Linked DNA regions of Homo sapiens: region 2 is linked to region 1. Evidence: fine-mapped expression QTL. A gene starts in region 1. The other region holds a variant in brackets. All regions are shown on one strand. Distances are between the middles of the regions.

The links. PIP is the estimated chance that this variant, and not a neighbour inherited with it, causes the effect. A credible set is the group of variants that fine-mapping cannot tell apart.
Region 2: its variant is the best candidate, but not a certain one, in a credible set for the expression of TTLL1 in whole blood (TOPMed, PIP 0.86).

What each region holds. Positions count from the first base shown.
Region 1 is chr22:43,087,991-43,091,002 of GRCh38, forward strand. TTLL1 (TTL family tubulin polyglutamylase complex subunit L1) reads right to left here and starts at 1,401. Exons shown (of 11, transcript NM_012263.5): 1 at 1,287-1,401. RefSeq lists silencers at 1,169-1,508, 1,273-1,567, 2,316-2,375 and an enhancer at 1,273-1,567.
Region 2 is chr22:43,050,727-43,053,226 of GRCh38, forward strand. TTLL1 (TTL family tubulin polyglutamylase complex subunit L1) reads right to left here. Exons shown (of 11, transcript NM_012263.5): 9 at 1,075-1,161. TTLL1-AS1 (TTLL1 antisense RNA 1) reads left to right here. Exons shown (of 3, transcript NR_125362.1): 3 at 1,329-1,640. Among named protein-coding and RNA genes, the nearest start is that of TTLL1-AS1, 13 kb to the left of the region's middle. The variant C/T (reference allele first, on the strand shown) is at 1,159.

The sequences.
Region 1 (3,012 bases):
TTAAAAAATTAGCGGGGCATGGTGGCGCGTGCCTGTAATCACAGCTACATGGGAGGCTGAGGCAGGAGAATCGCTTGAACCCAGGAGGCAGAGGTTGCAGTGAGCCGAGAGCGACCGCACTCCAGCCTGGGCAACAAAGCAAGACTCCGTCTAAAAATAAATAAATAAATAAATAAAGTAATAACAATGTCAGTGATGACTTCATGTTGAGCAGGGCATTCGTTCACAGCGGTATTGTCACTGTCCATCTCCACGCCCGCACTGGGTGACAGTACCATGCTCCACAGTGACTGCTTACCAGTGTCTGTAATTTGAGGGCAGAGAAGGGCCCATCTTTTTTTTTTTTTTTTTTTTTTTTTTTTTTGAGACAGAATCTCGCTCTGTCGCCCAGGCTGGAGTGCAGTGGCGCAATCTCGGCTCACTGCAAGCTCCGCCTCCCGGGTTCACGCCATTCTCCTGCCTCAGCCTCCCGAGTAGCTGGGACTACAGGCCCCCGCCACCATGCCCGGCTAATTTTTTTTTTTTTGTATTTTTAGTATAGACGGGGTTTCACCGTGTTAGCCAGGATGGTCTCGATCTCCTGACCTCGTGATCCTCCCGCCTCGGCCTCCCAAAGTGCTGGGATTACAGGCGTGAGCCACCGTGCCCGGCCGGGGCCCATCTTTTTGTACCGCCACAACCCGGCACCATAATGTGCTCATCAAACGTTTCCTGAGCAAAGAACCTGCTTTGCAAATGCCAAAAGGGCTAACAATGATAAGATACTTTCACTTCCAGAATTAATCTCCTCTAATGCCCCAGCTACTCTATGGAAAAGGATGACTACCCCGCCCTGCCCTCTTAGCTGATAGGGAATCAGAGAGGGGAAATGTCTTGGTCCAGTCATCTAGAGGGAAGACACAAGGCTCTTGTCTCCTGCCCTGAGTTCTCTCCACAGGTACATTGCGCCCTGCAAAAGATGCCAACAGAAACAACACAGATTGCAAACGAATGGGAAACGTGTAGGAACAATGAAAGTCTGGGATAACAAATAATAAACATAATGATGCAATTGCAACAGTCGGACAGCACGAGGTAAGTCATAGGAACTCAGCGGACGGAGAAAGGCACGGTGGTTAGCGCGGGCTTCCTGGAGGACGCGGATCCGGCAAGCAGCATCTGAACCGCATTTTCGCAGCCGCGTAGACACTGGCGCCCACACTCTCTCACCCATGCGCACTCGCCAGCCCGCGCGCAGCCACACCCTCGGTGCCCGGGAGGCGGCGGCCTGGGGGACAGGACCTCACCTGTGGGCTCAGAGCGCCGAGGGACTCGGAGGAGCGCCCTGCAGGGATGCCTCGAGCCGCGCCCTCGCCCCGCCTCCAGCCCCTCTCCGGCGCTCGCAGGAGTACGCAGCCGACTGCCAGGCGCACCGGCCCGCCCCGCCCCGCGCTGCACTCTACTTCCAGGGCGGCGCCCTGGCAACCCAGGACGCGACCGCCGGCGCTGCGACTATTTCCGGAGTCAGACTTGCCTGGGGCTCCTTTGGGCTCCATACCTCGGGCGGCCGCTATGCCCAGGGCTTGGATCCTAGGAAATGCCAGGCCGTCCACCCTCTCGGGGCCCAGAAAGGAGATTGAGAAGGGTCTGGAGCACGGGATTAAGTCTAAAAAGAAAGGTAGAGCGGTGTGATGATTAGGTCCGAATCCTGGGTTCGGTCTCAATCCGCTGTTTAGCCTCTCCTACCCCTTCTACCTCGGCTTCCTTATCTGAAGAAATGGTGATGTTGCGCCACTGCACTCCAGCCTGGGCGATAGAGCGAGACTCCATCTCAAATAATAATAATAATAATAACATAAAAATAAAATAATTTTTTTTAAAAAGTGTTTATCTGGGCCAGACTCGGTGGCTCACGCCTGTAATCCCAGCACTTTGGGAGGCAGAGGCGGGTGGGTCGCGAGGTCAGGAGATCGAGACCATCCTGGCTAGGCTGAGGCAAGAGAATCGCTTGAACCCGGGAGACAGAGGTTGCAGTGAGCCAAGATCGTGCCACTGCACTCAAGCCTGGGCGACAGAACAAGACTCCGCCTCAAAAAAAAAAAAAAAAGACGTTTATTATTCTCGTTATAGACCTGTGTTACCTCGAATTCTCTATACAATTATTCATTTTTAATTTCATCAATTTAAAGAGTTATGCAAACTTGTGCAACTTGTAAGTGACAGAGTCTGGCTTTGAACCCAGGACACCTGACCATTCATGCTGCTGCCTCTCAGGAGGGGTGGTGGTGTGCTTTCTTAGTGATGATTGGAGCTTTGCTAACATCACTTCCTATAATCTCCCACACAACCGCCTCCCAGGCCCAGAGCACATTCAGCGCATCATCATTTACTTTTGGCACCATCTAGTGGAACCAACACTTATCTGGAGTCCAAATTGCCAATTCATACCCTTCAGCTGCTGTCTGGTTGTGAGGCCTTGAGAAGTCCCAAGGCTTCCGACTACAGTGTTCTCACCTTAAACCCAGGAGATGAGTGAAGGCTTGCAAGACGTGGTTAGGGCCTGGCATAGTAAAGTGTTCAATAAACATTGTAGCCTTCCAGCATGTTGCCTCATGCCTGCAATCCCTGTACTTTGGGAGGCCAAGATGGGAGGATCACTTGAGGTCAGGAGTTCCAGACCAGCCTGGCCAATATAGCAAGACCCCATTTCTAAAAAAAAAAGAAAAAATATTTTTAATCAGCCGGGTATGGGGGCGTAGCCAGCAGTCCTACTCAGTTACTCAGGAGGCTGAGGTGGATCACTTGAGCCTAGGAGATTGAGGCTGCAGTGAGCTATGATCCCGCCACTACACTACAGCCTGGCCAACAGAACAAGACTCTGTCTCTTAGAGAAAAAAAGTTAAAAAAAACAACAACAAAAAAAGAATTTTAAGGCAGGGCATGGTGCCTTACGCCTGTAATCCCAGCACTTTGGGAGGCCGAGGCGGGTGGATCACCTAAGGTCAGCAGTTTGAGACCAGCCTGGCCAACATG
Region 2 (2,500 bases), 38 kb before region 1:
TGGCCAGGCTGGTCTTGAATTCCTGACCTCAGGTGATCCACCCGCCTTGGCTTTCCAAAGTGCTGGGATTACAGGAGTGAGCCACCATGCCCAGCCTCAAGTTATTCTGTTTAACATGGAGGACAAGAAAGTACAAACACTGGCTATCTATTCCCCGCTCACACACCCAGCTTTGGCGGCATAAGGAGTTGCCTGGAAAATGCCACGATGGAACCAGCTCACTTGGCTCTTCAGCAGCTTCCTGCAGGGGTTCCCATGACTCTACCCATAGGGAACCAGTCCCTACAACCTGCTATTGTGGACTTGGGTGTCCTGGCTCAAAATGTGACCGAGATGAAGGGCCCAAGCCATCCACTGGCAAATGAACTTGGTTGGGAGGGCGTGCAGGGAGATGAACCAATAGAGCCGGAGTTCTTTTGTCCCCTTGGAGGCCTGAAGCTCCTCCTCCTGGCTCCAGAGCAACGGTTGGGCAAGGTGGGTTTGAAGCTGGGGCCTCTGAGAAGCGCGCCAGCGCCCACTGTGGCTGAGGTCGCACCAGCCAGGCTTGGTGTCAGGAGGCAGTGCTAAACAGATAGCCAACACGACATCCTCTCCACCCACTGAAAGAGGCAGAGGAATCCACTTCCAAACTCTACCTTCATATATGCCAAAGAAGAGCAGGGGCGTTCCTTCCCTCAGGAGAGTGTGCTCCTGCTGGCCAAGGGTACCGAGGTTGTGAGCTGCTTTCCTAGATGGGAACACTGTCACCCATGAGGACAGGGGAGGGCCTGGGGGACAGGGTGCAGGACTGAGGGAGGATGAACTAGCCCAGATGCACCCTGGAGGAGTCATAGCCACCAAGTTCACGTGAGATGGGCTACAGCTCCCTGTCGTGGGCTGGGCTCTGGGAGGGGAGCAAGGCAGGAATGTGCTTATACCTTAACCATCAGCAAACAATCAAACTCGAACATCAGTCCCCTTCCTGCCTGGCCTGAGAAACATCTGGGGCCTGGGGGACTGCTGGGCCCGAATCGGGGCAGAAGTGTGTTGGGGGCTATGTGTGGTGTGACCAGGTGCAGGTGCTCCCGCAGTTACCTCGATCAGCCAGGGCTTCAGCTTGTCGTCGATGATGATGTCGTAGCCATAGCATTCAAAGCAGTGCTTGTCATTGTTCATCAC[C/T]GGCTGGAGAGAGAGTGACCAGTGGGTGACATGGCCAGCATCGAAGGGCGCAGCCGAGACCAACGCCACAGAGACAAGCAGGATCGTCCCACGTCCCGACCTCCCACAGCACAGGTTCCCACCCTCCACCACAAACGCTTCCTTCCCTCCTCTCCCTCTTCCTCCCGCAGAGCTCAGAGATTGGGCACTTTCCTCAGCCTGATAGAGGGAATTGATGAAGCCGTAATGGGCATCTCTGCGTCTCACTCATCAGAGGCTTGACTAGCACCCAACCCCTCTGTTGGCGTGAGACTGTCATCAGAGTGAACGGATGTCCAGCTCCAAGCCCAGAACCTGCAGTGAAGGTCTGTGCAGCCTTATCACAGACAAACACAAACTGTCCACCAGGCTGCCCGTTACCCCTTCCCAGGCCCTTAGGGATCCGGGTGCCAGACTATTAACCTCTGTTCCCAGTGACAAAAGTAAATCCATTTACATACAAATTTTTGAATTTCCTTTGTAATTTTCAATTCCATTTCACTTAGATACACCTTAGATTAACTGTTCTCCAGATACATAAATAACACCACCTGAGGCTGGGTGCAGTGGCTCATGCCTGTAATCCCAGCACTTTGGGAGGCCAAGGTGGGAGGATCACTTGAGCCCAGGAGTTTGAGACCAGCCTGAGCAACACAGCGAGACCCCCGCCTCTACAAAAAATAAAAAATTTAGCTGGGTGTGGTGGTATGTGCCATTAGTCCCAGCTACTCGGGACAGCTGGAGGCTGGGAGGAAGAGGAGTGCCGTGAGGAGTGCTGGAGTGCAGTGAGCCATGATCGTGCCACTGCACTCCAGCCTGGGTGACAGAGCAAGAACCTGTCACTTAAAAGCAAACAAACAAAAAAAAGAAAACTGGCTGGGCGCAGTGGCTGATGTCTGTAATCCCAGCACTTTGGGAGGCGGAGGCAGGTGGATCACCTGACGTCGGGAGTTCGAGACCAGCCTGGCCAACATGGTGAAACCCCGTCTCTACTAAAAATACAAAAAATTAGCGAGCCGTGGTGGCGCGTGCCTGTAATCCCAGCTACTTGGGAGGCTGAGACAGGAGAATCCCTTGAACCTGGGAGGCGGAGGTTGCAGTAAGCCGAGACTGCGCCACTGCACTCCAGCCTGGGCAACAAGAGCGAAACTCTGTCTCAAAAAACAAACAAACAAACAAAAAACACAAAACCCCCCAAACCCAGCTGCTTATGATGCAGATTCCTGGGCCCTCCCCAGCCTGCCTGGATTCAACCTCTGGAGACGCACCACAGTTTTACAGGCTCCTCAGAGACTTGTGCACCCTATAGTCAGTGAAGCATAGA